7 linked regions of the Homo sapiens genome follow. The protein of the gene in region 2 purifies or fractionates together with the protein of the main gene of each other region. This does not show direct contact. Each region holds a gene or a part of one and is shown on either strand. Other genes may lie near its edges.

What was found.
Region 1: the proteins of SIGLECL1 (region 2) and CAND2 purify together in Homo sapiens (co-immunoprecipitation; 3 studies listed by BioGRID and IntAct, with this or other methods). This does not show direct contact.
Region 3: the proteins of SIGLECL1 (region 2) and SYMPK purify together in Homo sapiens (co-immunoprecipitation; 3 studies listed by BioGRID and IntAct, with this or other methods). This does not show direct contact.
Region 4: the proteins of SIGLECL1 (region 2) and TNPO1 purify together in Homo sapiens (co-immunoprecipitation; 3 studies listed by BioGRID and IntAct, with this or other methods). This does not show direct contact.
Region 5: the proteins of SIGLECL1 (region 2) and INTS4 purify together in Homo sapiens (co-immunoprecipitation; 3 studies listed by BioGRID and IntAct, with this or other methods). This does not show direct contact.
Region 6: the proteins of SIGLECL1 (region 2) and HEATR3 purify together in Homo sapiens (co-immunoprecipitation; 3 studies listed by BioGRID and IntAct, with this or other methods). This does not show direct contact.
Region 7: the proteins of SIGLECL1 (region 2) and IPO9 purify together in Homo sapiens (co-immunoprecipitation; 3 studies listed by BioGRID and IntAct, with this or other methods). This does not show direct contact.

Annotation. Positions count from the first base shown.
Region 1 is NC_000003.12:12,810,180-12,813,679, reverse strand, and holds part of CAND2 (cullin-associated NEDD8-dissociated protein 2), read right to left. Parts: coding exon 3,356-3,500; intron 691-3,355; coding exon 585-690; intron 435-584; coding exon 292-434; intron 1-291.
Region 2 is NC_000019.10:51,261,080-51,264,579, reverse strand, and holds part of SIGLECL1 (SIGLEC family-like protein 1), read right to left. Parts: intron 698-3,500; 5' UTR 508-697; coding exon 486-507; exon of another isoform or gene 403-485; intron 1-402.
Region 3 is NC_000019.10:45,853,148-45,856,647, forward strand, and holds part of SYMPK (symplekin), read right to left. Parts: intron 1,361-3,500; 5' UTR 1,349-1,360; coding exon 1,244-1,348; intron 1,094-1,243; coding exon 1,028-1,093; intron 1-1,027. UniProt on the Homo sapiens protein: Scaffold protein that functions as a component of a multimolecular complex involved in histone mRNA 3'-end processing. Specific component of the tight junction (TJ) plaque, but might not be an exclusively junctional component. May have a house-keeping rule.
Region 4 is NC_000005.10:72,886,161-72,889,660, forward strand, and holds part of TNPO1 (transportin-1), read left to right. Parts: intron 1-909; coding exon 910-1,062; intron 1,063-1,917; coding exon 1,918-2,143; intron 2,144-3,500. UniProt on the Homo sapiens protein: Functions in nuclear protein import as nuclear transport receptor. Serves as receptor for nuclear localization signals (NLS) in cargo substrates.
Region 5 is NC_000011.10:77,883,169-77,886,668, forward strand, and holds part of INTS4 (integrator complex subunit 4), read right to left. Parts: intron 1,749-3,500; exon of another isoform or gene 1,612-1,748; intron 785-1,611; coding exon 664-784; intron 1-663. UniProt on the Homo sapiens protein: Component of the integrator complex, a multiprotein complex that terminates RNA polymerase II (Pol II) transcription in the promoter-proximal region of genes.
Region 6 is NC_000016.10:50,103,970-50,107,772, reverse strand, and holds the end of HEATR3 (HEAT repeat-containing protein 3), read right to left. Parts: intron 2,835-3,803; coding exon 2,712-2,834; 3' UTR 501-2,711; downstream 1-500. UniProt on the Homo sapiens protein: Plays a role in ribosome biogenesis and in nuclear import of the 60S ribosomal protein L5/large ribosomal subunit protein uL18 (RPL5). Required for proper erythrocyte maturation.
Region 7 is NC_000001.11:201,870,657-201,874,156, reverse strand, and holds part of IPO9 (importin-9), read right to left. Parts: coding exon 3,299-3,500; intron 2,997-3,298; coding exon 2,830-2,996; intron 1,330-2,829; coding exon 1,196-1,329; intron 1-1,195. UniProt on the Homo sapiens protein: Nuclear transport receptor that mediates nuclear import of proteins, such as histones, proteasome and actin. Serves as receptor for nuclear localization signals (NLS) in cargo substrates.

The sequences.
Region 1 (3,500 bases), on a different chromosome or scaffold from region 2:
TCTCAGGCCACTCTCTTCTCAGTATGTGTCCTTGTCTGAAACACGTGGGTAATAATTTCTGTTTTTTTAGGGTTATTGTGAGGAACACAACTAGTAGATGCTCAATAAATGACAGCAATGACTACTATCATTACTGTGGTCTGTGCAGTCACAGCGGGTGGGACTGGAGCTTGAGAAAGAGCTGGCATCAGGACAGGGGCACCAAATGTGACCGCTGTCTTTGGTTGGGGGATCCCAGGAAGGCTGTGTTCACCTCCACCCTCCAACCCCAATGATGGGCTGTCCACCAACCTTGCTCACTGAATTCACTATCCTCTGTCTCCATCTGCTCCTCATCCTCATCACTGTCGTAGTTGTAGTTGGGGTCGTGTTTTATGTATTGGAGGCAGAGGCTGGTCACGTTGGGCACGTGAGGACCCATTTCCTTGGGGCACCTGTGGGGCAGGATGAGGAATGCTTTGCTGGATCCAGCCAGGACAGGAGTGGGGGACAGGGCCCAATGGGAGTCCTGAAATTTTACTGCTTTGGGCCAGCATCCCCACCAACTTCCCAAAGGGATCCCCAGGCAACCCCACCATACATACTTCCTCAAGAAGGCCTCAAAAGCCTGGAGGCAGGACTCCCGGAGCTCATCATCATCCAGGTTGCAGAAATCCTCCACCAGGGGCACCAGGCGGTCCAGGTGAGCCCCTGCAGGGCCAGGTGGATCACTGAACCCAAGCCAGACACTCTCCCGGAGTTCCCCCAGCCCACAGCACTCAGACTGTCTATGCACCTGCAGCCCTGACCACTGTAGATTCAACTCAGAGGTTTCATAGTCAAGCAAATGTGGGTTCTAGCCCTGACTCTGCCACCCAACTGCTATGGGACCTTGGGCAGGTCACAACATTTCTTTGACCTTAGTCAGCTAATCTTCACAACAAGGATAACAGTGCCTCCTGGGCAGAGATTTTGTGAAGATAAATTATATAATGATAAATAGCTTAGGCCAGGCGCGCCTGTAATCCCAGCACTATGGGAGGCCGAGGCGGGTGGATCATGAGGTCAGGAGATCGAGACTATCCTGGCTAACAAGGTGAAACCCCGTCTCTACTAAAAATACAAAAAATTAGCCGGGCGCGGTGGCGGGCGCCTGTAGTCCCAGCTACTCAGGAGGCTGAGGCAGGAGAATGGCGTGAACCCGGGAAGCGGAGCTTGCAGTGAGCCGAGATTGCGCCACTGCAGTCCGCAGTCTGGCCTGGGCGACAGAGCGAGACTCCGTCTCAAAAAAAAAAAAAAAAAAAAAAAAATTAGCCGGGCACGGTGGCACACACCTGTAGTCCCAGCTATTCAGGAGGCTGAGGCAGGAGAATTGCTTGAACCTGGGAGGTGGAGGTTGCAGTGAGACAAGATAGCGTCACCGTACTCCAGCCTGGGGGACAGAGCGAGATTCTATCTCCAAAAAAAAAAAAAAAAAAAGATAAACAGCTTAGGCCGGGCATGGTGGCTCACACCTGTAATCCCAGCACTTTGGGAGGCCAAGGCAGATGGATCATCTGAGGTCAGGAGTTCGAGACCAGCTTGGCCAACATGGTGAAACTCCATCTCTACTAAAAATACAAAAATTAGCTGCACGTGGCAGTGCGCCCCTGTAATCCCAGCTACTTGGGAGGCTGAGGCAGAATTGCTTGAACCTGGGAGGTGGAGGTTACAGTGAGCAGAGATCGTGCCACTACACTCCAGCCTGGGAAACAGAGCAAGACACGAGACTCAGTCTCAAAAAGAAAAAAAAAAAAGAAGTTAAAAAAGCTTAGTCCAAGGTTGGGTGCAGTGGCTCACCCCTGTAATCCCAGCACTTTGGGAGGCCGAGGCGGGCAGATCATGGGATCACAAGGTCAGGGGTTCAAGACCAACCTGGCCAACCAACATAGTTAAACCCCGTCTCTACTAAAAATACAAAAATTAGCTGGGTATGGTAGCGTGCGCCTGTAGTGCCAGCTACTCAGGAGGCTGAGACAGGAGAATCACTTGAATCCGGGAGGCGGAGGTTGCGGTGAGCCGAGACTGCACCATTGCACTCCAGCCTGGGCAACAGAGCGAGACTCCGTCTCAAAAAAATAAATAAAAAAGCTTAGTCCAGGTTCTACACGAGCAGGCACTCGATAAATAGCATCTGTTATCAAAACCATTATTCATGTCCTGGCCTAATTTCCTTCACTAGGTTTAAGTCCTTGGATAGGAGAAAGGGAGGCAGGTACTGCCCTAATAGACCAGGCAAGAGGGGTTCCTGCCTGGTCTCCAGGCTTTAGAGCACTCCACTCAAGCCCTTCTCCAGCCATACCCTTCCCTACAGCATAAGAAGAGACATGCTGACCTAGAGACCCCCAACACTCCTAGACTCCATTCTGTCTGGGTATCTGGGGACCCGAGTTTCCTGCCCAATGGATCCTGACCCCTTGTCCGAGCCTGCGCAGGCCTCTTTCCTAGGTCCATGCAACCAAGGATGGCTGAGGGCTGGCTGCTGTTTGGGAGAAATGGGACAGGGTGTGGCCATGTCAGCTGGGGTTCCCCCCCCCACCCCCCGCCGTGTGCCTGCAAGGCCCCTTGCAGTGAGAGAGCCAGGGGTTGGGAGGGGCTGACCATATGCCAGTTCTATCCAAACTGTCTTGGTATAGTCAGAACTCCAAGGTGTCTGAGGATACATTCAAACCTGATTGCAGCTTTCCATTTCTAAAAAACTAATCTATAGTGACAGAAAGCAGATCAGTGGCTTCCTGGACAAGGCAGAGAGCTGGACTGCAAACGGACACAAGGAAGCTTTTGGGGGTGATGGAAAGGTTTCACGGATATACACAAAGGTCAAAACACACTGAATTGCACACTTTAAATAGTGCGGTTTATTGTATGCACATTAAATTGTTTCTTAAAAATTCAAACTTGGCTCATGGGCTGTTACTAAGATATCTTTGTCAAACTGGGAGAAGAGAACATAGTCTAACAGTTTAGTGGCATGACTTAAAATTGTAATTACCAGCCAGCCTCCACGTCTCATAAGTGATTGAACCAACCCCCTTCTCTGAACCGTCTGCACTCAGCAGGGGCTCAGGCCTGGGGGTTTGTCGAGCTCAGGGCCCGCCCTGCGCCTCTCAAGCCCTATCCGGCCCCAACCTCTGCGTTTCAGGGGCTTCAGCCGCCCGCCCCAGGCCCCACCCACCACATCAGCCCAGGCCCCGCCCCATCCTCCCTACCAAGGCAGACGGCCCACCCTTAGGCCCTGGCTGCACTGCGGCCCAAGCTCCGCCCCTTTACCGAGTCATTGGCTCACCCTAAGCTCCGCCCACCATGCCAGCCCAGGCCCCGCCCCCTGCCCCCTTACCGAGGCGGTGGCCGGCCTGGCGGCCGACGCTGCCCAAACATTGGATCAGGGTGCGGATGGCAGTCGGGCTGGTGGGCACCCGCGGGCCGGGCAGCCGGTCCAGTAGGTGGTCAGCGAGCTCGACGAAGAGGTCGGTGCTGCAGGC
Region 2 (3,500 bases):
TTGAGGTTACTGGAAGAAAGGGGTAATTTTCCCCTAACCAGTAGCTCCTGATCTCGGTCTCTTCACCTGAGTCACTTGCGGGGCGCTGTTGAGGAATCTGCGGGGGACTCTCATGTACGGACCCCTCTATGGCTGTCCTCTGAATTGTCTTTTCCACCTGGCAAAGTGTGCCCACAGAAACACTGAAAAACTTAACTTCAGGGCTTCCAGTAATGTCTGAAACAGCTCCTAGTGCTCTCATGCCTTCATAGCACCTACACTCTCCATCCCTCTCCCTTGCCCAATTTGCTATTTGCTTCAGACACACCAGCCCTGTCAAAATCTGACACACAGAAGCTGTCTAATTCATGTTGATTATTTGGTACTTATGCCCATATGTCCTCTTTCTCCATGCCTCCATAGCCCATCCTCTGCCCTGCCAACACCCAGGCCCTGGAGTCTTGGCTTCCAAACACACCTCCAGTGCTGCTTCTCACCTTACTTACCCAGCTGTAGCAGTGGAAGCATCACTTCCAGCAGCAACAGTTCTCAGGAACAGCAGAAGCTCTTTACTACACTGGCTCTGACATCAGAACCATATGGTTCAGAAGGAGTGAGGTGATGCGTAACTGAAAGAGGATGTGGGGATGGGGAGAGCAGAAGTATCTTTAGCCAAGTCAGGGGCTTCTGTCTCTGGTCATCGTGAAGGCCTGTTCACCTGGAGAAGCAGGAATTATATGGGATGAGAGGCTCATGAGCACGTACGGACAGGGAGGCAACTAAGATTGTCTGTGAAGCCTCAGTGTCATGTCTGCTTTATTCTTTGTTTTATTTTTGTTTTTTGAGATGGAATCTTACTCTGTCGCCCAGGCTGGAGTGCAGTGGCTCGATCTCGGCTCACTGCAATCTCCATCTCCCATGTTCAAGCGACTCTTCTGCCTTAGCCTCCCGAGTAGCTGGAATTACAGGTATTCACCACCATGGCCAAATAATTTTTGTAGTTTTAGTAGAGATGAGGTTTCACCATGTTGGCCAGGCTGGTCTCAAACACCTGACCCGCCTTGGCCTCCCAAACAGCTGAGATTACAGGCATAAGCCACTATGCCCGGTTTGTTTTTGTTTTTGAGACAGGGTCTTTCTCTCTCTCTGTCACCCAGTCTGGATTGCAGTGGTGTGATCACTTAAGATAGCAAAGTGTTGACATTCTCTCAGGAAAAATATGATAATGTTTAGTTTGGTGAGAAGTGTAAAACAACATCTCCCTACCACAGTATAATTGTTTTGCCATAAAATTTGAAATGAATGGTGTAAGTAACATTGTATAGCATGGCACAATGTTCCCTTTTATATCCCATGTAGACATTTATTTAATAAATTTGTTCTCAGTAAATTTCTATTAAAAAAGAGACAGCACGAGACCCTGTCTCAAAAAAATGATCAATTCCAATTCCTACTGGATATCATGACTTAAAAATCCATAGTAATTCCAGCGTGGGCAACATGGTAAAACCCCGTTTCTACAAAAAATACAAAAATTATCTGGGTGTGGTGGTACGCACCTGTAGTCCCAGCTACTTGAAAGGTTAAGGTGGGAGGATCACCTGAGGTAGGGAGGTCAAGGCTGCAGTCAGCCGTGATCACGCCACTGCACTGTAGCTTTGGGCTACAGAGTAAGACTTTATCTCAAAATAAATAAGTAAATAAATAAAATACATACATACATACATAGTAATTCATAGAGTATGGTATTGACACAAGGATAAATAAAAATACCAATGGGACAGGCTATATGGTTAGAAAAATACCTATACATATGTGATCACTTGGTTTAGGATAAATATGGCACTGCATAGAAGTTAAAGGACTCTCTTTTGAATAAATTGTGTCAGAATAACTGGACAGCCATACAGCAAAAGGAAATAAGACCCCTACCTCATGTCATACATAAAAATAACTTCTAGGGACATTGGGAAAGTCCTTAGACTTTTTTTCTAGAACAGTGCTGTGTGAAGAAATATAATGTGACCTATAAATGTGGACTACATGTATAATTTTAAATTTTCTAGCAGCCACATTAAAAAGGAAGAAATGGGTAAAATTAATTTTAATGATGTTTCATTTAACCTAGTGAAAGAAACCTAGGTTATTCACTAGGTTATTCATATTGAACCTAACCCAATATTTCAACATGCAATCAACACAAAATTGTTAAGATTTGGTACATTCTTTATACACTCTTCAAAATCTTGTATATATTTTACACTTACAGCACACTTCAATTCAGACTAGCCATAATATAAGGGCTCAATAGCCATATGTAGTTAGTAGCTACCACATTGGTCAGTGGAATTCTTTAATACAACATAGGAGAGTATCTTGGTAAGTTTTAGGTAAGGAAATATTTCTTTAAAAGGGCCAAAAAGCACTAGCTATGAGGAAATATGGATAAAATGGACTGTATCAGAATTAATTTCTGCATCAAAAGATACCATTAAGGAGGACAAATGCAAGTTGCAGGGCTGGAGAACATACTTGCAACACATACAACGTGCTTGCATCCAGAACATAGCAAGGATAAAGGGGGTAATGAATGGTGTAGTACATGAGTGGAGTGTTTGGGGTGTTGTTAATGTTCTATTTCTTGACCTCAGTGGTGGTTACACTGGTCTGCTCCCTTTGTGATAATTTGAGTTGTATACTTACTATCTGTATTAATACTTCTCTGTATAAAATTGTACTTTGATTTAAAAGCTTGTTTGAAAATAAAGACAGAGAAACAAACAGAAGGGATACAAAAGAGAATAGAACGGTTGGGACAAGTAGAAATCATGTACCTAGATGTTAGATTTAAACTCCAATACATCAGTGATTTAACTAAATATAAATGGCTTAAATTATCCAGTTATGAATCTAAGATCATCATATTGGAAAAAAGAAGCAAAGCCAAACTCCATGCTGTTTACAAAAGACACAACCAAAGCATAAGTGTAAAGGACAGTTAAAAAACCAAATGGGCCGGGAGCGGTGGCTCATGCCTGTAATCCCAGCACTTTGGGAGGCCGAGACGGGCGGATCACGAGGTCAGGAGATCCAGACCATCCTGGCTAACACGGTGAAACCCCGTCTCTACTAAAAATACAAAAAATTAGCTGGGTGTGGTGGCGGGCCCCTGTAATCCCAGCTACTCAGGAGGCCGAGGCAGGAGAATGGCATGAACCTGGGAGGCAGAGCTTGCAGTGAGCCGAGATCATGCCACTGCACTCCAGCCTGGGCGACAGAGCAAGACTCCGTCTCAAAAAAAGAAAAAAAGAAAAAACCAAAGAATGAAAACATACACCAAGCAAATACCAACCAGAAAGCCAGGTAATGTAGACATACCTACATTAACATCCCATAAAGCAGACTTTAAGCAAAAGGCATTACCAAAGATAGAATGGCATATCTCCTAATGATAAGCTGACATTAACAGGAATAAAGTATATATTTAAAATTTGTGTTTGCCTACTAACATAGTCCAAAAA
Region 3 (3,500 bases), 5.4 Mb from region 2:
TCCACTCCACCTCGGAGGTGGGGCTACTCCACAAGGCTACAGGCTGATGAAGGAGCCGAACGGGTTCTCACACAGGAATGCTAACCCTGCCAGTCTCTGAACTCCAACTGCCTCCTGCTCTGAACCATGCCCAGCCCAAGTGTCCCATGTCGTCTTCTGCCTTTGCACACACTTCTGTGCCCTCAGCTTGACATGCTCTCCCTCTCTTGGCTGGGCACGGTGGCTCGTGCCTGTAATCCCAGCAGTTTGCGGGGGCCAAGGAGGGTGGACCACTTGAGCTCACGAGTTTGAGACCAGCCTGGTCAACATGGTGAAACGCGTCTCTACTAAAAATACAAAAATTAGCCAGGCATGGTGGCAGGTGCCTGTAATCTCAGCTACTCAAGAGGCTGAGGCAGGAGTTGCAGTGAGAGCCAGGATCGTGCCATGGCACTCCAGCCTGGGCAACAGAGCAAGACTCTGCCTCAAAAAAAAAAAAAAAAGAGATGCTCTGCCTCTCTCATTTGGTACACTTCTCTCCTTTTATCCTCCATGGCTTGGTTCAAAAGTCCTCCCTGACTCCCCATCCCTAGGCTGGGTCAGGAGCTCCCTCTGGGCTCCCAGAGCCCCCCTGGGCTCCCTTCTCCATCCCAGCCCTGCCCACACTGGGTCATCATTGCCTGGTGACAGGAATGTCTGCCCCACTGGACTGGACACTGGCAGAGAAGAAATGCAATGATGAAGAGTGTAGGATTTGGAGCTGGAATCCAGGATTCAATTACTAGTTCAGCCAGCTCCCAGCAGAGTGACCCTGGGCTAATAATTTAAGCCCCGGGGTCTGCTTCTTTCTGTATAAAACAGGGATGAAACTACCCTGCCTTACAGAGCTTTCATGAGAACTAGAAGAGCAGAGGCCTGCACTGAGCACTGTGGCCGGCACACACTGAGTGTGTAAATGTGGACACTGGTGTTACTGCAAGTGTCTTTCTCAGGTTCCCAGCCTCCTCCCTTTCACCTGCTCAGCCCAGGATGCCCCCCGGGCCCTCACCTGTTTGAGCACTGTGATCTTTGAGTCATTGGTGATCAGCGCCGCCTGGTTCAGAAGATCCACCACCTGGAAGGAGGGGGAGTGGCAGGGGATAGTGCCAGCCCAGTCCAGCCCAGTGCAGCCCCCTCGGCACTCCCAGGGCTCTGCCACCTAAACAGGGATTGCCAAAGCCAGGGGCTATGCTTCCTCACTCCAAGCCCTACCCGCCACGCTCACCCTCTCTGAGGTGGTCATGCCATCGATGCCCGGCCCCTCCTCTTGAGTGAAAAACTGTGATGCCACGCTCCGACGGGTGACGCTGTCTCCACTGCCGCTCGCCATGGCTGCTGTCAGCTTGTCCCCAGGAAAGAAGAGGATGGATCAAGCTCAGGGAACCAGCGGATGGGCTGGGCTGGATTGTCACCCGAACACCTACAAAGGGCCCAAGCCTCCTTCCCAGGCTGTTCCTCCCCAGTCAGGCCTTCTCAAGTCCCTCTCCCCTCCAGGGTCTGTCTCTGGCTTATGGATATGTGCACGGGGCCTGTAACTTGGGGGAGACTGACATCTCCCAAGGCAGAGCCAGAAGTCTCAGCCTCAAGTGGGCCAACCACAAACAGCTGCTGAACGATGGGCCACATGAACGTGCAACAGCCACCTTGCAGGTCTCCGTGTGTCCCCTCTCTCCATCTGGGATATGCTTTGGACTGGGCACCACAGCAAACTTTCTTTTTTTTTTTTTTTTGAGATGAAGTCTTGCTCTGTCACCCAGGTTGGAGTGTGGTGGTGCGATCTCAGCTCACTGCAACCTCTGCCTCCCAGGTTCAAGTGATTCTCCTGCCTCAGCCTCCCAAGTAACTGGGATTACGGGCACATGCCACCATGCCCAGCTAATTTTTGTATTTTCAGTAGAGACAGGGTTTCACCATGTTGGCCAGGCTGGTGTCAAACTCCTGACCTCAGGTGTTCCACCTGCCTCGGCCTCCCAAAGTGCAGGGATTACAGGCGTGAACCACAGTGCCTGGCCCAGAGTAAACTTTTAAAAACACAGCTCTGAGGAATATCAGGCACAGAGTCCGGCACATAGTAGGCACTCAATACATCACAAAAGGCCTGCTTCAATAATTATGTTTCAGCCACTCTCTGGAATATCATGAAGCTGTTTTTAAAAGGGAGGAAGGGGGCTTTCAGGCATCCATCACAGTCACACAGGCAAAATTATGGAATGATTAACGTAGCAGTATATGTCAATTACACAACTATTCATAATAGCAAAAGACTAGAAGCAACTCAAGTGTTCTCAAATAGGGAGACTGGCTGAAAAAAAGTTCATACATAATCAAAGGCCATGGGGCTTCAACACCTGTGAAAGTAAGTGAAAAACATATAAATATAAATAAAGGAAAAAGACTATGGAACTGTAACAAGAAAGGAAGAAAAAAACAAAAAAATGAGAACAATCTCTAGACACTGATAGAGAGTGCATACATTAAGTGAAAACAAGCAAAGCTGAAGACAGTGTTGACTGTATGTTTCTGTTTTACAAAAAAAAAAGAAAAATGAGGCCAGGTGCAGTGGCTCATGCCTGTACTCCCAACACTTTGGGAGGCTGAGGCAGGCAGATCGCTTGAGCCTAGGAGTCGGAGAGCAGCCTGGGCAACATGGTGTAACCCTATCTCTACAGAAAATATAAAAATTAGCTGGGCATGGTGGCGTGCCTGGTAGTCCCAGCTACTCAGGGAGGTGAAGGCAGAGGCTGTAGTGAGCCAAGATCGGGCCACTGCCCTCCAGCCTGGGCAGCAGAGTGAGAACTTGACTCAAAAAAAAGAAAGGGGAAAAAATATATATGTTAAAAAAGGAAAAAAATCTGAAAGGATAAACCAAAAACCAGCAGAGGAAACAGGGTAAAAAAAATTGGTGAAGCCGGGCGCGGTGGCTCACGCCTGTAATCCCAACACTTTGGGAGGCCGAAACGGGTGGATCGTCTGAGGTTAGGAGTTTGAGACCAGCCTGGCCAACATGGTGAAACCCCATCTCTAGTAAAAATACAACAGTTAGCTGAGCCTATAATCCCAGCTACTCAGGAGGCTGAGGCAGAAGAATCGCTTGAACCCAGGAGGCGGAGGTTGCAGTGAGCCGAGATCATGCCACTGCACTCCAGTCTGGGACATAAAGACAGACTCCATCTCAAAAAAAAAAGGTGAATCTCAGTATATTATCCTGAAAAGAGGTCCCTGACAGCCTGTTGCATCAGAGGACAATACATGCAGTTCAAGCCATTTTTGTCAAGTATGTGTTTATGTATACGCAGAATGACCTGAGGCAAGACATTTAACTTCTCTGGCTCTCAGTTTCCTCTTCTAGGAAACAGGGATAGTAACAGGGCTTACCTCCCAAGACTATTTTGAGGATTAAATGAGTTAGTATATACAGTAAACATTGGCTAAGTATACTATTATTTTTATGTACATGGGAAAAGATCTGAAGGCTACTGCAT
Region 4 (3,500 bases), on a different chromosome or scaffold from region 2:
TGTTGTTCTTTTTGATTTTGTTGCTCTTGTCTAAATTATTATTATAATAAAATCTGGGTTGATTTATAGTCCCATAGTTAATTCTTTGTAAAGAGTATTTTCTAGCATGCGTTATGTTTCATGTGCCAGTGACTTTTCTTCCAGTTTTTGTGTCTAAAGTCCAGCTAAGTAATTGTCTGTTTAATTCTAGATGATATACTGCTGGAAATGTTAAGTAGAGTTAATAATGTATGTTTTTTGCGTGATTGTAACAGTGATTGTAATCATGATTGTAATATGAGTGTATCATATTGAATGGTTATGTTAGAAGCACTGAATTGAGTGGCACAGTATTTGTTTTACTGTATAGACAGAATTCTAGTATGACAGTTATGTACAGAATACAATGTGTTCACAATTAATTTGCCAAGTAAGTTCTTGTCATAAAAAATATTCATCTTAATAGAAAATGTTTTTGGCTGGGCATGGTGGCTCACACCTGTAATCCCAGCACTTTGGGAGGCTGAGGAGGGTGGATCACGAGGTCAGGAGTTTGAGACCATCCTGGCCAACATGGTGAAACCCCGTCTCTCCTAAAAATCAGCTGTGCGTACTGGCACACACCTGTAATCCCAGCTACTCAGGGGGCTAAAGCGGGAGAATCACTTGAACCTGGGAGGCAGAGGTTGCAGTGAGCCAAGATCGCACCACTGCACTCCAGCCTGAGCGACAGAACAAGACTCCATCTCAAAAAAAAAAAAAAAAAAAAAAACCACAAAATGTTTTCACGTGACAAACTACCTCCTATTCAATTGAATTCTTATTTTAAAACTCCGTATTAGAGATACGAATAAAATGTTACATATACAATAAATAATATATAAGTAATAAGAGGTTAATGTAATATTTTTGAATTAAATATTTCCTTAGGAAAATGTTCTGCTGCTGCCCTGGATGTTCTTGCAAATGTGTATCGTGATGAACTGCTGCCACATATTTTGCCCCTTTTGAAAGAATTACTTTTTCATCATGAATGGGTTGTTAAAGAATCAGGCATTTTGGTTTTAGGAGCAATTGCTGAAGGTAAGCCTAAGTCCAGTTTGAATTATGTAAGTTGGCTTCTTACTACTATTAGGTACTAATAAGGCTAGGCTACTTTAAGGAATTTCTATTTTGAACCAGATAACTAGTATTAAACAGCCATAGGCCGTCTTCTAACCCCAGCTAGATATTTTGCAAAATGTTTTTGTTATAATAAAGGTAACAGAGGCCAGGCATGGTGGCTCACGCCTATAATCTCAGCACTTTGGGAGGCTTAGGCGGGTGGATTACCTGAGATGGTTTCAAGACCAGCCTGGTTAACATGGCGAAACCACGTCTGCTAAAAATACAAAAATTAGCTGGGCGTGGTGGCATGTGCCTGTAGTCCCAGCTACTTGGAAGGCTGAGGCAGGAGAATTGCTTGGACCTGGGAAGTGGTAGTTGCAGTGAGCTGAATTCGTGCGATTGCACTCCAGCCTGGGTGACAGAGCAAGACTCCATCTCAATAAAAAATAAAAACAAAAAAATTAAGGGAACAGAATGAAAGGCTCTGATGTCTGAAGCATCCCCATTGCTTTAAAAAAAAATCCTTGATTCTTTAGGTAAGTATAGGAAACACAATAAGGCAAGACTCTCTTCATTCTCTATGAAGGGTTATTATTGATTTTGTCCTGGCAGTAAACATCTATTAGAAGAAATTGAAACACTGTAAGATGCTTGGGAGCAGGTAGCTCTAACTTCAGGGTTTTAAAAATAATTTTGGTATAGGTTATTGTAGTATGTGTATAGCAGTAGAAATATTCTGAATTTTTTCATAGATACGTGTTTTATTTTCATAATCAACCAAAATAATGTTAACTAAATTTTAGCATTTTGAAAGATTTATTTTTTTTCTAGGTTGCATGCAGGGCATGATTCCATACTTGCCTGAGCTTATTCCTCACCTTATTCAGTGCCTCTCTGATAAAAAGGCTCTTGTGCGTTCCATAACATGCTGGACTCTTAGCCGCTATGCACACTGGGTGGTCAGCCAGCCGCCAGACACGTACCTGAAGCCATTAATGACAGAATTGCTAAAGCGCATCCTGGACAGCAACAAGAGAGTACAAGAAGCTGCCTGCAGGTGGGACAGATTCATAACACAGTGTTCTTTGTGGCAGTGAAAAACTTAATTTTCAACCTTCTGATGGAGTGTTGGTGTTAAACCTATAATGAAGTGTTTCGTAATTGAAAATTTTCCAGTTATATCAGAAAGCTTAGTTTTCTTTTTTCTTCTTGGTGAAGTGTTTTGCAGGATCTGTAGCTTTTGGGTTTGCATATTAGCGTATTTTATACATTTTGTTTGGCCAGGAGAATTTTGTCATGTGGGTTTTACCTGATGATTTTGTAGATCTAAATGTGACAACATCGATCTTAGCTGTTTCTTCTTTGGCTCATTTTTCCCACTCAGTGGTTATTATAACAGAACTATCTTACACCCTAATTCCCTCAGACATCTGAACTAGTGATGGCAGGACTCCTACTCTTGAAGGAATAACAACGTTTGAGCAGATTGACATCCTTAGACTACAGGTCAACCACCATAACTCAGAAAGTCCCACAGGGACCTGTGGTCTGTCACTTACCAGTTAAAGGTCTTTGAGTGCTTAGTAGTTCTGCTCTAGTAGCCATTCTATTGGTTGGTTTGGTGGCTGTCTCTTTATATCAAGCCAGCAGTTGCTTTTATTACTACAAATATTCCAGTTTCCTGCAATATACCTTTATATTTTAAAAGGGCCTTCTGCTTATGTTTATAGTTCTTAATTTTTCGAGTAGGTTTGCTTTTACCATTGACCTTGATAGTAGGAAAAAATAACTGTTGAACAAAAAAAAGGAAAATTTTATTTTATTTTTTTTAGATGGAGTCTTGCTCTGTCGCCCAGGCTGGAGTGCAGTGGTGTGATCTTGGCTTACTGTAACCTCCGCCTCTCGGGTTCAAGCAATTCTCCTGCCTCTGCCTCCTGAGTAGCTGGGACTACAGGTGTGCGACACCATGCCCAGCTAATTTTTGTATTTTTAGTAGAGATGGGGTTTTGTCATGTTGGCCAGGCTGGTCTTGAACTCCTGACCTCAAGTGATCCACCCATCTTGGCCTCCCAAAGTGCTGGGATTGCAGGCGTGAGCCACCGCGCCTGGCAGGGATAGTAAATTTGAGTTTGACCTTAATCCATCTGAAGCAGTCATATCTGGAAGATATTAAGGGAGGGAGGATATAGATTATGTTTGAGATCCTATAATTTATTCATTCAGTACCTCGGTTTTTTTTTTTAGCTATTAATTGTTAAGCATATACTAAATGCTGAGTTTACATAAAGTCCCTGCCATCTTGAGACTTACAGGTTAGTAGGAAATACAAAGCAGCAACATAATTATCATTTATGGCAAGTGCTATGGAAGAAATCGGTAAATAATTCACAGTGCTGATGACCAGGGCTTTCATT
Region 5 (3,500 bases), on a different chromosome or scaffold from region 2:
ATAAACCAAATTTGGTGGCATTAAACACCTCCAGTAACAGTGCTCCTGAACCATCTCCAATTATTTGGGAAACACCACTGAGGCCAATTCTGCCCCCTATTCTAGGTTCTGCAGACTGAGGTCTTCTTAAGTTTTTTAAAGCAGGCTTACAGGCTTGAAATGTAATCTCCTTTGTACTTGTATTCTCCCATTTTATCCTCACAATTCAGACATAAGTTGGCAAATGAAAAAAAATATTTTTAAAAATCCTCACAACTAATTTGTAGGTTGAGAATTATTATTGTCATTTGGAAGATAAGGAAAAAGACTCAGAAAGGGAGAGACTTGTCTAAGGTGACCAAGCAAGTCGGTGGCAGTTAGGATAAGAATAATCTCCTGGTGTCCAGACCAGGGCCCTTTCCATGAGACTCCATTCTATCATAATCGCCTGTATATCTTCCAACAGAATCTTATCTCTCATGCAATCAAAGCACTGTAGCAAATTAGCCCAAATATACCCAGTTTTTTACCCACTTAATGAGTGCTTATAAACTCATTAAGTTCAATTCTTACAAGGCCTGATTCATCCATGTATTTTTTTCAAACTTTAAAAACCAAACGCTTAAGGGTAGGTGTGATCTCCAGCAGCATATTTCCCTTCCCACCCTGGTCCTGACTCCTTACCTGTCCAAGCGGTGTGGGAGAGATAAACCTGAGTGATGAGCCGGTGCCGCCCTGGGCCAGGATTCCGGAAGTCTGCAGGCTTGGGGTGAATCATCTGAGCCTGGCCATCTGGATATAAGACCTAAAGGGTGACAGAAATGAGAAAAAGGCAGAAGCGAGAGGAGCATTTAACAAAATGGATGATGACATCTGTTGTGAACCTCAAAACACAAGAAGAAACATGACACCAACTTTACTAAGATTGAGCCTTGGGGGTAGGTCAACACTGTAGACATCTCTATTCCCCTAATCCAGCATGAAGCAGTGTTCAGTAAACATTTCCTGAATTCATGGTGAATAAGTAATATGAACAGAGTGTCTCTATTAAGCGCAAAGACAGGTAAGAATATTAATTCTTATTATGAAAAGTGTTCTCAGGCACCTTCACCAGAAGAGCACTCCCTCCCTGGCTCTGAATCATACCATGGCCCAGCATCCATCACCAACCACCAGTATTTGGAGTTATTTTGTAATTGCATTCTTTCCACTACATTGCAAGCAGCTAGGAAGTCATTTATCTCTCTCTCTACGGAGAGACGGCTCAATGAAGAGTCCACTCAAATCACTGGCCAGTTCTTTAAGGCTCATAAACTGCAACAGAGTTCTTTCCTCAGCATCCTGGGGGACCTCCCAGCTCCCTGTGTAGACAGCCTACTATACTGCAGCGCACAAAGGAACTAGAGGAACAAATGAAGCTTATCCTAGGACTAGGACCTGCTCTATGTAAATATACTTATGAAGGCAGAGTAGGGAACCACACAGGTCTTCCAATGTTGAAACTGTGGTCAATGTTGAAACTGCGGAAGGCATGTCTCACCCACTTGCCCTATAATCCTTCATCTCTCCTCAGGTCATGGGGCCTCCCCCTGATTCTACACTTCTTTCTTTCTTTTTTTTTCTTTAAAACAGGGTCTTACTCTGCCACCCAGGCTGGAGTGCAGTGGCACGATCATAACTCACTGAAGCCTCAAACTCCTGGGCGCAAGTGATCTTCCTGCCTCAGCCTCCTGAGGAGTGGGGATTACAGGCACGTGCCACCACGCCAGGTAATTTTCTTTTTAAATTTTTTTGTAGAGACAAGATCTTGCTATGTTGCCCAGGCTAGTCTCCAACTCTTGACCTCAAGTGATCCTCCTGCCTCAGACTCCCATAGTGTTGGAATTACTGGCATGAGCAATTGTGCCCAGCCTACCCTTATTTCTTTTTCTTTTTCTTTTTTCTTTTCTTGAGATAGTCTCACTCTGTCACACAAGCTGAACTGCAGTGGCATGATCTCGGCTCACTGCAACCTCCGCCTCCCGGGTTAAAGTGATTCTCCTGCCTCAGCCTCCCAAGTAGCTGGGATTACAGGCGCCCACCGTCATGCCCGGCTAATTTTGTATCTTTAGTAGAGATGGGGTTTCACCATGTTGGCCAGGTTGGTCTCGAACTCCTGACCTCAGGTGATCTTCCTACTTCAGCCTCCCAAAGTGTTGGGATTACAGGCGTGAGCCACCACACCTGGCCTACCCTTATTTCTTAAAGCTGCTACTCCCCACTCTAGTTCTAGGCTCCAAGCTCCCAAACCTACTATAGGAAAAAAATGCAGGTGTCTCAGTTTCCTGATCCTTATTATCTTTAAAGACAAGTGCTTGGGCTTCATTTTTTTTTAGAAAATGAAGGGGAGGGCCGGGCACAGTGGCTCACACCTGTAATCCCAGCACTTTGGGAGGCTGAGCCAGGTGGATTACTTGAGGTCAGGAGTTCAAGACCAGTCTGGTCAACATGATGAAACCCCTTCTCTACTAAAAATACAAAAATTAGCTGGGTATGGTGGCGTGTGCCTGTAGTCCCAGCTACTTGGGAGGCTGAAGCAGGAGAATCACTTGAACCTGGGAGGCAGAGGTTGCAGTGAGCTGAGATCGCTGCCACTGCACTCCAGCCTGGGTGACAGAGTGAGATTCTGTCTCAAAAAAAAGAAAGAAAGAAAGAAAAAGAAGGGCAGAGGGGGGCTGAAACAGCAATGATCATGGGAAAAACAAATGAACAGGGGCCATAATTTCTGTGTTCAGCAGGTGCAGTGGCTCATGCCTATAATCCCAGCATTTTGCGGGGCTGAGGCGGGAGGATTGCTTGAAGACAGGAGTTTAAGACGAGACTGGGCAAAAAAGTAAGACCCCCCAATCTCCACACAAAAAAAATTAAAATTAGCCAGGTGTAGTGGTGTGTATCTCTAGTTCCAGCTACTCAGGAGGCTGAGGCAGGAGGATCCCTTGGACACAGAAGTTTGAGGTCACAGTGAGCTGACCATGCCACTGCACTCCAGCCCAGGCAACAGACAGAGACCTTGTCTCAAAAAAAAGAAAAAAAAAATTCCCAGCATTCTCAGCAAAACTGTCCTTGGTGAAAGGCCTTCACTCCTCTGTGAAATGGTTGCTGGAAGCCTTCTTTCATTTGTCTACTCCAAAAGTGGAGCTTAGAAACCTGTGGCCCAAGTAGGTCAGAGGAAGGAAATGGCCAGTATGAATGATCATCAGGTAGAATACAGTAACCTAGATTAGGCTTACAAGAGTTAATAATCGCGAAGGCCCGCGGCGGGTGTTGATGCCATGTGATTTCTGCCCAGTGCTCTGAATGTCAAAGTGAAGAAATTCAATGAAGCACGGGTAAACGGCGGGAGTAACTATGACTCTCTTAAGGTAGCCAAATGCCTTGTCATCTAATTAGTGACGCACATGAATGGATGAACGAGATTCCCACTGTCCCTACCTACTATCCAGCGAAACCACAGCCAAGGGAATGGGCTTGGCGGAATCAGC
Region 6 (3,803 bases), on a different chromosome or scaffold from region 2:
CCCAGCTAGTTTTTGTATTTTTGTAGAGATGGGATTTCACTATGTTGGCCAGGCTGGTCTCAAATTCCTCACCTTAAGTGATCTGCCCACCTCGACCTCCCAAAATGCTTGGCCTCCAGTGTGTATTTCTAACGGGCTATTCTGGGTGATTTTCAAATAAGTATATTTTAAAGCAGACTTTTTTTCCCCTATGGTCATACAGAAAAAGCTCTCCATTATCCTGTGCCATGAATAATACTTGCATGCTCTATTGAGTTATTATGTAAATAGTTAAAACTGTATGCTGTATTTATGAGTTGTTTTCCCTTCTTTTGTGTCGTTAGAGTGGTAAAGTTGAATGGGAGAAATCCAGACCCAATTATCCATGCCTCAGAATCTAAGAGATTTTTAGGATGGCACATCTTCAGTGTCATCTCATCTTCTACCGTGTTTAAGGATGATTCTGCATTCAACAGCTGCTTTAGAGCTTGCTTAGTAAAACAGAAAATCACACACAAAACAACGAGAAAATCACCAGCATTTATTTACTCAACAAATATTTATGAAGAGTCGACTATATACTAGGTCCTGTGCTAAATATCCTGGATATTGTTTATAGGTCAGAAACTGTGGGGAAGAATAAACAGAATGAGGAACTTTTTTCTCCTTGAAAATAATTATATTTTATAAATAATTGAGGCAGAGAGAACTCTAATACTTTCTTTTTTGGAAGAGTCGTTCTCCAAGGAGACATGCTTGGGCCAATCATTTAGCTGAAATGATCACTAAACATACATATATACCTTAAAATTCATGAGCAAGGACCATAATAAAGCGAGGTGTTGTATATGGTATACATTTCTGTTTTCCCACCATATACACAATTTGGGTTATTTTACTTGGTGCCATGGGCTAGGAACTCTTAGGGCTGGGAAACAATCTTGGTTTCCCAACAGTCTATATCATATAGGTGAAAACTGTAAAATACATCACAGTGCAGATGAAATCTAACACTACTAGCTCATTTTGTGCTGCTGTGGAAGCAGTGAATTAAAATTAAGTCCTGTACTGGGGATTGGGCCTTTTGTCAGGGCAACTGAGATCAACTGTACAGAAATTTTCAAATTTCCCTTCTCATCAGGCAAACGGATGGACAATGAAGCCGGTTCAGAGGCCCAGCCGAGACAATGATGCACAGGGAAACTCCCTCGAGCCCCAGCTGTCACCTAGTACTTCGAAGACACTGAGAGGTAATGCTGCAAAGTCGTGCTGTCATTTTTTTAATGTCTCACATATATTCCAAGCAATATGCATTAGCAAACAAATATCCACGAATAGTATCATCTCATTTTCTACTAATAACCCTTTATTTGGTATCTTAAAAAAGATTTTGTAAGACACAAAACTTTCCATTAAAAAGTTGTTTATTTAAAAATACCTTCTCCCAATTCTGATTCCATATCAAATTAAATCAAGAAGTGATGTTACAGCAATAACTCATCAAAGTCATGAGTAGGGAGGATGGCAATGACCCCATTAGCTCATTAGTATAATCTAGTAAGTGAAATAGAAATTCAACTCATTTACTTCTTCACAAAAGGCAAACATAATTGATATACTTCATATCAAAAAACTAGTTTATAAAGCTTGTCTTCATATTTCAGTTTAAGGTTCAACTGATATAAAATGCCTTAAAAGAACATCCAAGCAATGCTTTGGATTTTCTTTCTTTGCAAAATTCAAGGAAAACATGATTGGTTGAAGTTTCTTCACTGCTGGCGAATTAGTTAAGAGCTACCTGAGATTCCTTCGCACTTCCACTCTTCCACTCTTTGAGTTTCCAGTGATTAAAATATGCCAGAGACATAATTTAGAGAGCGCTAGAAATGCCACACAGATCTCATCACTTAAAAAAGAGTTTCTGGCCAGGCACGGTGGCTCATGCCTGTAATCCCAGCACTTTGGGAGGCCAGGGCAGGCGGATCACTTGAGGTCAGGAATTTGAGACCAGCCTGGCCAACACGGTGAAACCCGTCTCTACTGAAAAAAAAAAACAAACCAAAAAACCAAAAACAAAAACAAGGTGTGGTGGTGGGTGCCTGTAATTCCAGCTACTCAGGAGGCTGAGGCATGAGAATCGCTTGAACCTGGAATGGCAGAGGTTGCAGTAAGCCAAGATCGCAGCACTGTAATACAGCCTGGGCAGCAGTGAGACTCCATCTCAAAAAAGAAAAAAACAACAAAACAAAACAAACAAACAAAACACACACACAAAAAAACCAGCAACAGAGTTTCTGACAGGTTTTGAAGTTTTTTTTTTTTTTTTTTTTTGGAGACAGGGTCTCCCTCTGTCACCCAGGCTGGAGTGCAGTAGCGTGATCTCAGCTCACTGCAACCTCTGTCTCCCAGGTTCAACCGACTCTCCTCCCTCAGCCTCCCGAGTAGCTGGGATCACAGGCATGTGCCACCATGCTTATGCATGCGGTTTCACCATGTTGGCCAGGCTGGCCTCAAACTCCTGACCTCAAGTGATCCACCCGCCTCGGTCTCCCAAGGTGCTGGGATTATAGGCGTGAGCCACCATGCCTGGCCAGGTTTTGAAGTTTTTACAGAATGTACAGAATGTAATCATTAAAAAATGACTTTCAGAAACATATACATTCAAAGAAAACCTTTTAGTATTCTAAGCATTGAATACTTTGGGGGAAGAACTGGTTTCTTTTTTGGATTGTTTAAGAAGTCAGTCTTTTCTCAACAGTTTCTTGATAAGCAATAAATCTTCGCAAATTCATTTTCACATTGTCAAGAACACACAGCTGATCTGTGCTATAGTTACCTCTCCCTTCTTTACGTATCTGCAAACAAAAAACAAAAAATCATATATGACTTGGTAGATATGATTAATTCATTTAAATAAAGTATTTAATTTAGGGTGTATTTAACCATTTGCTGAAGCAGATAGCTGTAAGAATTTGGAAAAAATGTTTTTACTTCCAAGGTAAATGGAACTCGGTAAGTAAAGAATAAACTGAGAATGTGCATTATTAAAAATGATAGTTACAAAGGTGACTGAATGGCAGGTGGTAGGAGTTATATAAACTATAGAAAGGAATTATGTAAACCATGAATTGGGAAAATAACCCCTAACCTCTGAAAGGTCTGCTGTTCAGATTGATTTTCCTAGTTAGTATGCATTGCTATGGTAATAATACTTAATTGTTTTTCTTCTCTCAAAGGTATAAAGCCTTAATGAAATTCCTTTGTTAGGCTGGGTGCATACTCATGCCTGTAATCCCAGCAGTTTGGGAGGCCGAGGCAGGAGGTTTGCTTGAGTCCAGGAGTTCAAGACTAGCCTGGGCAACACAGTGAGACCCCACCTTAAAAAAAAAATTCCTTTGTTAGCCAGAGGTTAGTCTGTAGTGTTGTGGTTTTTTTGTTTTTGGAACAGGGTCTCTCTCTGTCGCCCAGGCCAGAGAGCCGTGCTGCAGTCATGGGTCACTGCAGCCTCGACCTCCCGGACGCAAGTGATCCTCCTGCCTCTGCCACCACAGTAGCTAGGACTACAAGCAGCGCACTACCATGCTGGAGTAATTTTTTTAAATTTTTAGTAGAGGTGGGGTCTCACTATGTTGCCCAGGCTGGTCTTGAACTCGTGGGCTCAAGTGATCCTACCACCTTGGCCTTCCATAGTGCTGGGATTACTGGTGTGAGCCACCATGCCCAGCGCTGGTTTTGTTTGTTTGCTTGTTTTTTGTTTTTAATAGAGATGGGTCTTGCTTCATCGCCTAGGCTGGAGTGCAGTGCTGCAATCCACTGAGCTCACT
Region 7 (3,500 bases), on a different chromosome or scaffold from region 2:
CACCACCCCTCAGACTTTCACTGTACCTGACTATATCCAGTCTCCAAAGAGTGACTTAAAGTTAAATAACTTTATTGTTTGGTATTGTAACAGTTCAGAAGCTGGGAGAGATGAGAGTTCAGGGATTAAAGGAGATACAGTCTTGTTAGTAATAAAGCTCTGAAACCAAGGAACTGTATAGAGCCAGTACTCCAGTCCCAATGACTTAGAATTTGAGAGACAGCGGAGGTAATTATAAATCTACATTAAAGATAGCAGCTCTATACTCCCTACCTGCAAATCATTGGAGTTACAGGCCAAAGGCAACTCAGTAACAAAGACATGCTGACTATCTGTGCCCACGCTTCTGAATGAAGCTGGAAGCTGGGATGCTTGGTGCCTGAGACTATTTTTGTCTTTTTTTTTTCTTCAGACAGAGTTTTGCTCTTATTGCCCAGGCTGGAGTGCAATGGCGTGATCTTGGCTCACTGCAACCTCCACCTCCCGGGTTCAAGCGATTCTCCTGCCTCAGCCTCCCGAGTAGCTGGGATTACAGGCATGCGCCACCATGCCTGGCTAACTTTGTATTTTTGGTAGAGACGGGGTTTCTCTATGTTGGTCAGGCTGGTCTCGAACTCCCGGCCTCAGGCGATCCACCCACCTCGGCCTCCCAAAGTGCTGGGATTACAGGTGTGAGCCACCACGCCTGCATTTTTTTTTTTTTTTTTTTTTTGAGACGGAGTCTCATTTTGTTGTCCAGGCTGGAATGCAGTGGCACGATCTTTGCTCACCGCAACCTCTGCCTCCCAGGTTCAAGCGATTCTCCTGCCTCAGCCTCCCAAGTAGCTGGGATTACAGGCGCCCACCACCATGCCTGGCTAATTTTTGTATTTTTAGTAAAGACGGGATTTCACCATGTTGGTCAGGCTAGTCTCAAACTCCTGACTTCAAGTGATCCATCCGCTCTGGCCTCCCACCAAGTGCTGGGATTACAGGCGTGAGCCACCATGCCCGGCCTATTTTTGTCCATTTTCCACAACAGGAAGAAACCGTATGTTCTGATCCCTTTTACCTAAGTTTCCTGCTTCTTCTTTATCAAACCCATCACCAACAATTGTTTTAAAAATATACACCACAGTGCATTCCTTCCCTTCACCCAGGTATCCTTAGCCCCTTCGTATAGGGAGAGGATTGGAAGAATCGCAGCAGCACCCACTTTTGGCTGACTTAGAGCGGGTGCGGATGCCCTCATCCATGCTGTAGATCTCCTCTCCCTTCACACGGATATCCTGTAGCCGTTTGTCATCTGCATTGATGCCATGCTGGAGCAGCTTACAGAGTGCCACAGAGCTGGCAAGGAAGATCCAAAAAAAGGTCAATCAGCCGCCCATCTCGAGTTCACTCCAAGGAGATAAGCAATTATGTCCTAAGACCCTCTATTTGATAGTGAAAATTCCGTTAACAACTAATTAGGAGAGCTAAGAGAGTTCAGCTGAAAATGAGATTTTAGAGTTCATGAGGTGGTTTAATGAGATCTGTGCTTTTTTGTTGTTGTTGTTGTTGTTGTTGTTTTTGAGATAGGGTCTCATTCTGTCACCCAGGCTGAGTGCAGTGGTGTGATCATGGTTCACTGCAGCCTTGACCTCCCTGGGTTCAGGTGATCCTCCCACCTCAGCCTCCCAAGTAGCTGGGACTATAGGCATGCGCCACCGTGCCTGGCTAATTTTTGTATTTTTTTGGTAGACACAGGTTTCACCATGTTGCCCGGGTGGGTCTCAAGCAATTCGCCCACCTCAGTCTTCCAAAGTGCCGGGATTACAGGTGACCTGTTCTTCTTGAACAAAGCTAAGGTTGCACCATATTGTAAGGTGCAACGAGGTGATAAGAATCAGTGGTATAAAAATCCAGGATAAAAAGTTAGGAAGCCAGGGTTAGAAGGTTGGGTTTTTTATTTTTATTTTTCTGAGACAATTTCGCTCGTCGCCCAGGCTGAAGTGCAATGGCGTGATCTGCCTCCTTGGTTCAAGCGATTCTCCTGCCTTAGCCTCCCGAGTAGCTGGGATTACAGGCACCCACAACCACATCCAGCTATTTTTTGTATTTATAGTAGAGACAGTGTTTCACCATGTTTGCCAGGCTGGTCTTGAACTCCTGACCTCCGGTGATCTGCTCGCCTCAGCCTCCTAAAGTGCTGGGATTATAGGTGTGAGCCACTGTGCCTGGCCAAGGCTTGGGCTTATAAAGGAAAATAAGCCACTAGCAGCACTTAGCTGTGTGAAGTCTGTGGTAGAGAAGGGATCTCTTGTAAACAGAGACCAGAAATATATAGTCTACCTGTGTTGACTGTCTTTTGGGGATTTCAAGATGGCAGCTATTCACATATGTGCGTTAGCAATAAAGAAAGACAGGGAAAAGGGAATACAGAGAGCCATTTGAAATGTCAAACAAAAATCAATGGAGCAAATCAGGAAAAAAAAGAAATATGTGTCAGGAGCAGTGGCTCACACCTGTAATCCCAGCACTGTGGGAGGCCGAAGTGGGTGGATCACTTGAGGTCAGGAGTTCAAGACCAGCCTGGCCAACATGGTGAAACCCTCTCTCTACTAAAAACACACACACAAAGAATTCACTGGGTATGGTGGTGCATGTGTGTAATATTCGGACGGCTGAGGCAGGAGCAGGAGAATTGCTTGAACCTAGGAGGTGGAGGTTGCAGTGAGCCAAGATTGTGCCACTGCACTCCAGCCTGGGCGACAGAGCGAGACTGTCTCAAAAAAAAAAAAAAAAAAAAAAAAAAAAAAGAAATATGAGTGGTGGCAGAATGCCCAGAAAAGAAAGATGAGGTTCTACCTGACTTTGCCTTCATACTGTCCATAGAACAGGTGCTGTCGGCTTGTCCACTCAGCCATCACAAACTCTAGAGCAGGTTTGCCAGTAGGTCCTGGGAGGCTACACAGGAACTCCAAGAGAGGTTCTAGCTGAGTGTGCACCAGATGAGCGAACACCATGATCAGGGACTAGGAGAAAATAAGGACATTTGCTTCAGGGAAATCAATTTCAGAGACATAGGAGATGAGAGGGAACTGGCCAGTCAGATAAGAAATACAGTCTACACTGAGGGTATTATCCACAGGACAAGAAAACATGGGAGATTTCCTTGTCCATGTTTCTTAGGCCAAACAGATCAGACAGGTCCCATTTTACTTAACTGTCCTACAAGGCTAGTAAGAGGGTAAAATAAAATAACTCAGGACCAAAATACGAATTTTCATTTCTATCAGCCAGGGAGTAGGAAGCCCACTCCCCACTGCTCTCTTACCTGCATGACACTGAGCGTCTCTGCCTGCTGCATCTTACTGAGGATGGCACGAAGAATCTGGTCTAGATTCTCCCCGAGTTCCCGCCCTGCCTTGGAGATGAGGGTGGAAACAAGGCGGCCCACAAAGGCCGCAGTGAACTCTGAGGTGCGGGGGTCCAGGAGCTGGCTCACCACTTGCATCACATACCACAGTCCATTGTGG